Homo sapiens: one gene and its partners. The protein of the gene in region 2 purifies or fractionates together with the protein of the main gene of each other region. This does not show direct contact. Each region holds a gene or a part of one and is shown on either strand. Other genes may lie near its edges. The genes, in order: PRKAR2A, RNF125 and DDX46.

Region 1 (3,653 bases), on a different chromosome or scaffold from region 2:
AGAAAATTATCAGACAGTACTCATTACAATGATCTAGCCCACTGTTTAGTAATCTTTACATCTTACAAATTTGGTTAATCACTGAAGACTGTGAACTCTGATTTGTGTTAGATTAGCCAAAAGGATGCCTTTGTGTCAAATATAGAAAGTTAGAGGACAGAACTCTTTAACCTTCCCCAGGTTCTAATAGCAATGGATGAAACTTACTTAAGGTCAAAAGAAAATGACATCAAAAGAACAAACACTAGAAGCCAAGGAAAGGTGAGAGGAAGCAAGAGATCTGCACGTGTCAGTAAGACGGACGTCAATAAGCTTCAGAGGACTACATAATAGTCCTCTGAAGTATGATCTATTACCTGGTAATAAGAGCTCCCAACAGTGGGAGAACATAGAAGGTTTTTTGGTTTTTTTTTGAAATGGAGTCTTGCTCTGTTGCCCAGGCTGGAGGCAGTGGCGCAATCTCGACTCACTGAAACCTTTGCCTCCTGGGTTCCAGCAATTCTCCCGCCTCAGCCTCCCAAGTAGCTGGGATTACAGGCATGGGCCACCACACCCAGCTAATTTTTGTATTTTTAGTAGAGATGGAGTTTTACCATGTTGGCCAGGCTGGTCTTGAACTCCTGGCCTCAAGTGATCCACCTGCCTCAGCCTCCCGAAGTGTTGGGATTACAGGCGTGAGCCACTGCGTCCGGCAAGAAGTTTTTGAGATAAATGATGTACTAGTTCTTCAGGGGTGACTTCCAGGAAAGGAGCTGCGTAAAGCCCTCACTCACCTGAGTGATTATGCGTTCTCCATCCTTATAGATCTTCTCTCCTATTACATCCACAATCTTCATTCGTTCTGACACCTGAAACAACAAATTCACAAATAAAAGGAAAAGACCTTAATTGAAAGTCACAATAGCTATGCAGCACAGAAATAGGATTAGAATAGTATGATTTGAAAACCTAACAACAGAATAGTTTTAAAAGCTTTTCCTGATCCCCATGAACAGATTCTTATTCAAGCCACTTTACCTCTAGTGATTTAAGGAGGGGCACAGACTCAATAAATGATTCAAACATCTTCCTCTTCTTTGCATTATTTTTCACTATGATTCTTCTAAAAGTCACCCGGTCCTACAAGAAAGAATATGAAAATTCTAGTAAATGCCTATATACAGGAACATCTATGGTTTAATTAACTGGCCAAAGCAAATATTAGAGGAATATGTAAGTTACTGTGTTAATTAAGTGTTTAATGATACTTCAATCTTGAGTCATCACTGGAAGTAAAGGACCTATAGCCTGAGCCAGCCAGATGCCCACATGCTGTTGCTTGCTATCTAGCACTCAATAGGTGCCACCTATGGGTCATAAATAGAACCCAAAACAGAAAACACCTAAACATTTATGAGCTCACTGTCACTGTTCAATATCAAAAAAGACACCTCTAGTGAGCCGAGATCATGTCACTGCACTCCAGCCTGGGTGACAGAGTGAGACCCTCATTTCAAAAAAAAAAAAAAAAAAAAAAAAGAGACACCTCACCAAAAGAGAGAATAAAACAATCATTTAATCCTTAGAATCCAGGATTTAAAAAAACTTAAAAAATCCAAAACAATTAGATTGTTCTTGCCTAAAAAAAGAACAATTAGATTGTTCTTACCCTAAAAAAGTTTACAATCTTAATGGGGAGATAATATAAAATATCAAAATATGAAGGTTGGCTGAATGCAGTGGCTCACTGCCTGTACTCCTAGCATTTTGGGAGGCTAAGGTGGGCAAATTGCTTGAGCCCAGGAGTATGAGACCAGCCTAGGCAACATGGTGAAACACGCTCTCTACGAAAAAATACACAAAAAAAGTTAGCTGGGCATGGTGGCACTTGTCTGTACTTGGGTGGCTGAGGTGAAAGGCTCACCAGAGCCTGAGAGGTCAAAGCTGCAGTGAGTTGTGATTGTACCACTGCATTCCAGCCTGGGCAGCAGAGTGACACTATGTCCCAAAAACAACAATATCAACAACAACAACAACAACAACAAAATACATAGGAATAAAAAGTCTACATTTCAAGGACAGGTGCAGTGGCTCACACCTGTAATCCCAGCATTCTGGGAGGCTGAGTCAGACAGATCACTTGAGCTCAGGAGTTCAAGACCAGGCTGTGCAACATGGTGAAACCCCATCTCTACAGAAAATACAAAAATTAGCTGGGCATGGTGGCGTTTGTCTAGTCCCAGCTAGTTGGGAGGCTGAGGCTGGAGAATCACTTGAGCTCAGGAGGCTAAGGTTGCAGTGAGCTGAGATTGCGCCACTGCACTCCAGCCTGGGTGACATAAGTTGAAACTGTGTCTCAAAAAAAAATAAAATAAAAATAAAAAGTCTACAGTTCAAGACAGCATATGAGCATATGAAATGTGCTTGATGAAACTACAGAAGACAAGTGCCACATAAATTTCAAGGTAAGAAGGGGAGATCACAGTAGGCAGGAGTGATCAAAGATTATTTTGCAGCAAAAATGTCTAGGACCTGAAAGAGAGGTAGGATTTAAGTTAATGGAGAGACACGGGAGGAATACGCAAGATGGAAGGCAGGCATATGAAAGATACCTTGACTCTAGCAAGTCATGGATTCCTTCTGTTTTATTTTGAGATAGGGTCCCCCAATGTTGTCCAGGCTGGCTTTGAACTCCTGGGGTCAAGTGATCTCCCCACCTCAGCCTCCCAAGTAGCTGGGACTACAGGTACACAACACTGTGCCTGGCTTAGTAAGTAATGGATTCTGATCAGAAGACAGTTAACCAAACCAGGCACTTCTCAGATATGTGTACACATGTGCAGGGAGATACATGTGAGAATGTTAATTGCTTAGTCTTAGATTCCTAAATGGGCAAGCAGTTATTTGTATCTAAGTTAACTACCTTTCTTCCACCTCAGGCTGTCAGGACTATACATATATACATTTTGTCAGAAAGTATAATAATGGGCTGGGCGCAGTGGCTCACGCCTGTAATCCCAGAACTTTGGGAGGCCGAGGCAGACGGATCGCTTGAGGTCAGGAGTTCAAGACCAGCCTGGCCAATATGGTGAAACCACATCTCTACTAAAAATACAAAAATTAGCCAGGCATGGTGGTGGGCGCCTGTAATCCCAGCTTCTTGGGACGCTGAGACAGGAGAATCACTTGAACCTGGGAGGCAGAGGTTGCAGTGAGCCGAGATCATGCCACTGCACTCCAGCCTGGGTAACAGAGCGAGACCCTGCCTCGAAAAAAACAAAAACAAAACAATATTTTAGGCTGTGTGTGGTGGTTCATGCCTGTAATCCCTGCACTTTGGGAGGCCAAGGCAGGAGGATCGCTTGAGGCTAGGAATTCAAGACCAGCCTGGGCAACACAATGAGACCTCAACTCTATTTAAAACACAAAAACAGGCTGGACGCAGTGGCTCACACCTATAATCCCAGCACTTTGGGAGGCTGAGGCGGGTGGATCACAAGGTCAGGAGATCGAGACCATCCTGGCTAACACAATGAAACCCCGTCTCTACTAAAAATACAAAAAATTAGCTGGGCATGGCGGCACGCGCCTGCAGTCCCAGCTACTAGGGAGGCTGAGACAGGAGAATCGCTTGAACCTGGGAGGTGGAGGTTGCAGTGAGCCAAGATCACACC
Region 2 (3,653 bases):
GTTGAGAGAGTCTTGCTATGTTGCCCAAGCTGGAGTGCAGTGGCACGATCATAGTTTACTGCAGCCTTGATCTCCTGGGCTCAAGCGCTCTTCCTACTCAGCCTCTGGAGTATCTAGGACTACAGGCGTATACCACTATGCCCCAGCTAATTTTTTTGATTTTTAGTAGAGACAAGGTCTCTTCCCAGGTTGGTCTTGAACTCCTGAGCTCAAGCAATCCTCCCGCCTCGGGCTCCCAAAGTGCTGGGATTACAGGCATGAGCCACTGCGCCTGGCCTCCAAACCATTTTCTATGTGTATGTTAGAGTGATATCTTAAAGATACAATCCTGGGCTGGGCATGGTGGCTCATGCCTGTAATCCCAGCACTTTGGGAGTCCGAGGCGGGCAGATCGCCTGAGGTCAGGAGTTCAAGACCAGACTGGCCAACATGGTGAAACTGTGTCTCTACTGAAAATACAAAAGTTAGACAGGCGTGGTGTTGGGCCCCTGTAATCCCAGCTACTCGGGAGGCTGAGGCATGAAAATCGCTTAAACCCAGAAGGTGGAGGCTGCAGTGAGCTGAGATCGCACCACTGCACACCAGCCTGGGCAACAGAGTGCGACTCTGTCTCAAATAAAAATAAAAATAAAGATATAAGCCCGATCTTGGCACTCCAAAACTTACTCTCTTTCTCTGGCTTACTATTGCATTTAAGATAAAATCTAGAATCTTCTACATAACCTTCAAGACCTCACATGATCTGGGGAAGCTGATATAGTACCCAAGTTGAAAACTGCAACAGGCAAGGTGTGCTTGATAGAGACAAATACTGCAAAGTCCAGATCAATACAGGTGGAAATATGTCACTGGGTTTGATAATAAAGCTATTCATTAGTGGTCTGCAACAGAGTAGCAGAACTGGAGGACATATCATAGAGGATCACTGGAGTAATGGGAAGAAGGGAAAATGGAGGTGGTCAATGAAAGCATTTGTTTGACAAATTACGGGTGATGGTAGAAGTTCAGGGTTTTCTGCAGATGATATATGTACATATATGAAATTGGAGGCTGGGTGAGATGGCTCACGCCTGTAATCCCAGCACTTTGGAGGCCAAGGTGGGCAGATCACTTGAAGCCAGGAGTTTGAGAACAGCCTGGCCAACATAGCAAAACCCTCTCTCTACTAAAAAGACAAAAAATTAGCCAGACATTGTGGCACATGCCTGTAGTCCCAGCTACTCGGGAAGCTGAGGCATTAGAATCACTTGAACCTGAGAGGCGGAGCTTGCAGTGGGCCGAGATGGCGCCACTACACTGCAGCCTGGGCGACAGAGCAAGACTCTGTCTCAAAAAAAAAAAAAAAAAAAAAAATGGCACGGACCCAAAGAGTGAGTGGTAGCAAGGTTTCTTGTGAAGAGCAAAAGGACAAAGCTCCCACAACATGGAAGGGGACCCAAGCCGGTTGTCACTGCTAGCTGGGGTGGCCAGCTTTTATTCCCTTATCGTCCCCGCCCATGTTCCGTTTCTGTCCTATCAGAGTGCAGTTTTTCCAATCCTCCCTGCGATTGGCTACTTTCAGAATCCTGCTGATTGGTGCGTTTTACAGAGTGCTGATTGGTGCACTTTACAGAGCACTGATTGATGCGTTTTACAGAGCACTGATTGGTGCATTTTACAGAGCGCTAATTGGTGTGTTTTACAATCCTCTTGTAAGACAGGAAGGTTTCCCAAGTCCCCACTCTACCCGGGAAGTCCAGCTGGCCTCACATCTCACCAGCACTTTGGGAGGCCGAGGCAGGCGGGTAATGAGGTCAGGAGATTGAGACCATCCTGGCTAACATAGTGAAACCGTGTCTCTACTAAAAATACAAAAAATTAGCCAGGCGTGATGGCAGGTGCCTGTAGACCCAGCTACTCGAGAAGCTGCGGGCAGGAGAATCACTTGAACCTGGGAGGCGGAGGTTGCAGTAAGCCGAGATCGCACCACTGCACTCCAACCTGGGTGAAAGAGCGAGAACCTGTCTCAAAAAAAAAAAAAAAAAAAAAAAAAGGTGCGTACCATGGGGTCAGAAGCAGAGGTGAAATGATAACTTTCGCAGGGACTTAAGCTGGTAACCATGAAAATAGGTGGGGTCACATACATACCAGGGTGTCACACTCAGCGCAGTTCTTATACTCTGATTTCATTCTTTTGGCTACATCAGTTGCTGGAACTCCTTCTGAAGGAAGATATGCCCGGCAATAAGGACAGGTCCACTTGTTGTTCTTTAGACTGGTAGCAATACAGGAACGGCAGAATCTACCCCAAACAGACCAAAAATACATCACTTTCCTTGAAAGCTATAAGGAGCCACCACCATGTATTCATTTGTGTAAACTGTAATTTAATGACACCTCGTACCCCATGAGCCATACTACCAAATTACAGGTCCACTTGCACCCTGCACTTCCCGAGAATTGCTTACCTTCCCAGCAAGACTTCTTTAGAATCACACATTCTTACCACATGCACTTTCACACATTTCAAGAAAAGTAAGAATTCAAAGTGGGTGAAATAGCTTTCCTATAGGCTAAGTTTAAACGATACTTTAAAGAATGTCTAAATTGGATTTTACCTCAAATTTCTTGAGAAAATATGTCTTTCTTCTGTGGGGTTTTGTGTGTCACATAAGAAAATAGCAGGAAGTCAAGGAAGTAAAAATACCAGACACATTATAATTCCCTATAAAACCATTTTCTCCTTCCCTCCCTTCCTCCCTCCCCTCCCCTCTCCCCTCCCTCCCTCCCCTCTCCCCTCCCTCCTTCCCTCCCTCCCTTCTTCCTTCCTTCCTTTCCTTCCTTCCTTCCTTCCTTCCTTTCTGGTCAAGAAATATGTTCTCTGGTTTATTTAAAGGTGCTCATTATGAAATCTTAACATAATCAACATTTCCAGAAAATTCTGACCTATTTATAGGAGTTGTTGAAGACTCCATAAACATAGAAATAAAAATGAGCATTTGGGTAATTTATACACATGAGCATGACCTGATGCCTCTTAAACTACTCAGCACATAATATCTATTTGGGAGTATTAATACATGTCCAAAGGTAGGCTTTTTAAATTTTAAGTATACTGTACATACTGGAAAGTTCTTATAAGCATATAGTTGAATGAAATTTCAAAACTGAACACATCCATATAACCAGTACCTATAACAAAAACAGCGTGGCCAGCCCCTAAAATTTCCCCTCTTGTTTCCTTCTCTTTTTTTTTTTTTTTTGAGATGGAGTCTTGCTCTTGTCACCCAGGCTGGAGTGCAATGACACGATCTCAGCTCACTGCAGCCTCCACCTCCTGGGTTCAAGCAATTCTCCTGACTCAGCCTCCCAAGTAGCTGGGATTACTGGCACCCACCACCACGCCTGGCCAATTTTTTGTGTTTTTAGTAGAGACAGGGTTTCACCATGTTGGTCAGGCTGGTCTCGAACTCCTGACCTCAGGTGATCCACCTGCCTCAGCCTCCCAAAGTGCTGGGATTACAGGCGTGAGCCACTGTGCCCGGCCTCCAGACACAATTCTATCCCCTCCAAAGTAATCACTGACTTTTTAAAATGTATTTTAACATATGAAAATTATACTTTTCAAACATTGTACCAGCCTATAGACTGCAGCTTTCTCATCCCTGCTTACC
Region 3 (3,574 bases), on a different chromosome or scaffold from region 2:
GTATTAAGCACATGATTTAACAGCTGTTTTACTTTTTCCCTCTTGTTTTGTGAACCCACTTTTCATTAAACTTCTAACCACCCCCACCCCCCAACAAAAAAAGGAATGCTCTGTGAGGGGAATTTTAGAAAAGCTCTCAGAATTACACTTAGATAAAAGACAACGTTTCCTTTCAAAGGAAATGTACACACTGTAGGGAGTGTTTATAAGCTGCAACTGGCACTAAAGACACAAGGACATGTCTACCTCCTCGGGAAAGGCAGTCTGTAAAGGGCTTTTTCCAAAATCAAATTAAGTCATTGTTTAAGTTTAAAGACACTGACAACACCATGTGTTGGCAAATATGTAGAACAACTGGAATTTTCTACACTTCTGGATTGAGTGTGAATTGATGTAACCTCTTTGGAAAACTATTTAGCAATACCTAGCCTATAATTAACAATTCTACTCCGAGGTATATACCCAAGGAAAAAATCATGCTAATATATACCAAACGCACATGGAATAATGTTCACAGAAGTGTTGTTCATAAAAACCAAAAATAAGAATAGCCCCCAAATCCAATATATAAATATAAATTAATTGTTGTATAATCATATAAATATTATATGGCCATGAAAATGAATTATTGCTACATGCAATAACATGGACCGATCTCCTCAAAATGTTGAGTGAAGGAAACTAGATGCAAAAGGTGCAAACGCATGATTACACTTATGTGGAGTTCAAAAACAGGAAAAACTAATCTATGATTTTAAAATTCACAATATAGGGCCGGGCGCCACGGCTCACGCCTGTAATCCCAGCACTTTGGGAGGCCAAGGCAGGTGAATCATGAGGTCAGGAGTTCGAGACCAGCCTTGCCAACACAGTGAAACACCATCTCTACTAAAAATACAAAAATTAGCCAGATGCGGTGGTGTGCGCCTGTAATCCCAGCTACTCAGGAGGCTGAGGCAGGAGAATCACTTGAACGCAGGAGGCGGAGGTTGCAGTGAGCCGAGATCGTGCCACTGCACTCCAGCCTGGGTGACAATGCAAGACTCAGTCTCCAAAAAAAAAAAAGAAAAGAAAAGAAAAAAAATTCAAGGTATGGTTTTGTTGGGGGGAGATGAATAGTGACAAGAATAGACACAGAGAAGACTTCTGGGATATTAGTAATGTTTTTTATTTCTTGATCTGGGTAGTGACTACACTGGTATGCTTATTACTTTGTGAAAATTCATCAAACTATATGTTTATGATTTGAGTACTTCTCTGTATTTATATTTCAATAAAACACTTATTAAAACAAAACAAACGAAACTTTAAGGTTTTCACTCACCAGCCGGATCAGCTCTTCTTTTATGAGCCTGGTGATTTCTGCCTTTGCTTTCTGCACAGCCAGTTCATTGGCACCTAGTGATTGAGTGGAAAGCATATTATTCAAATTACTAAACTTACACTGTGTTTACCCATATCACGGAGGTCCAGGAAGAAACACTGTAGGTGACTTTCAGAAACACTGTACTGCCTGCCAAGATAGCCATTTAATGCCTGGTGGAACATTACCCACATTATATAATGGCTGCTTATTATTTTGATTACTTTCAGAGTTTCAAATGTAACCACTGAGGTCATATTATGTGTTAAGAGTTCCTAGTATGGTGATTAAAAAGAGTGGAATAAAAAGACTATTAGTGATTTGTCCAGGAGATAGTAAGAGAAGGCTAAAGGGAAATATAACTTCCTTGGTTTATTCATTTAGTAAGTATTTATTAGACATTTATGATGTTCACTGAAGTCTACAAATGTTTCAGAAGGGTCTCGTCTGAACAAAATCTTTAAAATGAAAGGAGGACTAGCCAATTGGAGGGAGGAAAGATACCATAAGAGTATTTTGCAAAGGAAATTAATTACATGCGTAATGGTACAGAGTTAAGACAAGCATGCTTAATTATTGAAGAATAAGAGAAGCGTAGCGTGGTTGGAAAAGGAGTATGAAAGAACACCGCAAGATAGCTGACTAGATGAGGTAGGCTGCAGACATTCATTCACAGTTATCAATTTCATAAACATTAAGCACTCACCTCTCACATACTGTGAGACATTTAACATATAAATAACAAATTCATGCTCTTTAAAAGCTTACAGACTAGAAAAACAAACTTGTAAAGATATCAAAACAGGATGAAAAGGAAGTAGTTCACAAACTTCACTTTTAAATACCACTTTTAGGAAGTTTTCCTGACTCTGAAAGGCACAGTTAAGTGTTTTTTTCCTTAGTGCTCTCACAATATTGTATTTATACCATCACAAGAGCACACTTTTGAGGTAGAATGGACAAGATATTTTTTCTGATGGGATATGAACAGTGAAAAAGAGAAACAAATTAAGATATTAAGAGCTGGCTGGCAAGTGAAAAAAGGCAGAAGTAAAAGAATATACTGATTCCAGGAGGTAAACAGGTGTTTTCTGGACAGTGATAATGGGTGAAATTTAATTCTAAAATTGCTGTAGTTGAGGTGCTCATCAGACATCCAATTGGAAATACAGATGAGGCCAATGGAAATATGAACCAGAAGTTTAGAAGTGGCAGAGATTAGAGAGCCATCAAGGGTAGGCTGGGTAGAATCTGGAGCCAATGGACAATGCCAGTGAGTAGGTAAGTACAGATAGACACCATATTGCACACTGAGAAGAGAAAAAGAGCTGAATCAAAGAAGACTAAAGATTGAAATGTCTAAGAATAAAAGGAGGACTGGGTTTGCAACGTAGAGAGCTATATTTTTATCATTCCGTGTATTTTTAAAAAACACAAATGAGGGAAAGATTTATAATAAACGAGAAAATTTCCCCCCATATTAGAAATGAGTAACTTTTCTGTCCCCAGAGAGAGACAGAGACGGAGCTAGAAAGAGAGACAGAAACAGTTGCACAACAGGAAGGAAAAGGCCAAGGGTATGGCTATGAAGTCATAGCAACATATCTAATTTAAATCCTATACCTCCACTAGCCACCAATCACAACACTATAAAACTACGTGGGGAAGGTGAGTGCTGGAAGGGAAGAGAAAAAGAAGAATCAAGACCGAAGTCAAACTGAAAATTACAACAAAAATGAAATTTAGGAGGAAAACACGTTGCTTGGTATGAGTTGGTGTGAAGCTTGTTGATATTTTTGTGCAACTTTAAAAAGAAGGAAAATGACACTCTCACCTAGATTTAACTGGAAAATCAATTTTCCTACTTTTATCAGAGCCCGACAATTTGGACCAGTTTAAATTCTGACTTATGTAACTTCTTGTAATAGGTTACATATGTTTATAAGCAGCTATGAAAAAAAGGGCATTTCCTTTCATTGGTCCTAAAACAACTGTGGCTGCTTTTAAGGGATTCTCCACTAGTAAAAAGAGAGGGTCACAGAACAGGCTATATAAATTATACAGGCTGACTAGGCATGTAAGTCCTTCCTGTTCTCCTTCCCTTTGCCTGGTGGGAGGCCTGGAGCTGCTGAGCCAAACAGAGCCTCCAAGGAGCCAGCCAGGCAGTGGGGTCCCTCCAATTACAGAACTAGAAACAGATGACACTAGGCT

The links.
Region 1: the proteins of RNF125 (region 2) and PRKAR2A purify together in Homo sapiens (affinity purification with mass spectrometry, with the first as the bait; one large-scale study listed by BioGRID). This does not show direct contact.
Region 3: the proteins of RNF125 (region 2) and DDX46 purify together in Homo sapiens (affinity purification with mass spectrometry, with the first as the bait; one large-scale study listed by BioGRID). This does not show direct contact.

What each region holds. Positions count from the first base shown.
Region 1 is NC_000003.12:48,764,231-48,767,883, forward strand, and holds part of PRKAR2A (cAMP-dependent protein kinase type II-alpha regulatory subunit), read right to left. Parts: intron 1,120-3,653; coding exon 1,018-1,119; intron 849-1,017; coding exon 774-848; intron 1-773. UniProt on the Homo sapiens protein: Regulatory subunit of the cAMP-dependent protein kinases involved in cAMP signaling in cells. Type II regulatory chains mediate membrane association by binding to anchoring proteins, including the MAP2 kinase.
Region 2 is NC_000018.10:32,035,744-32,039,396, reverse strand, and holds part of RNF125 (E3 ubiquitin-protein ligase RNF125), read right to left. Parts: intron 2,282-3,653; coding exon 2,128-2,281; intron 1-2,127. UniProt on the Homo sapiens protein: E3 ubiquitin-protein ligase that mediates ubiquitination and subsequent proteasomal degradation of target proteins, such as RIGI, MAVS/IPS1, IFIH1/MDA5, JAK1 and p53/TP53.
Region 3 is NC_000005.10:134,824,771-134,828,344, reverse strand, and holds part of DDX46 (probable ATP-dependent RNA helicase DDX46), read right to left. Parts: intron 1,399-3,574; coding exon 1,325-1,398; intron 1-1,324. UniProt on the Homo sapiens protein: Component of the 17S U2 SnRNP complex of the spliceosome, a large ribonucleoprotein complex that removes introns from transcribed pre-mRNAs.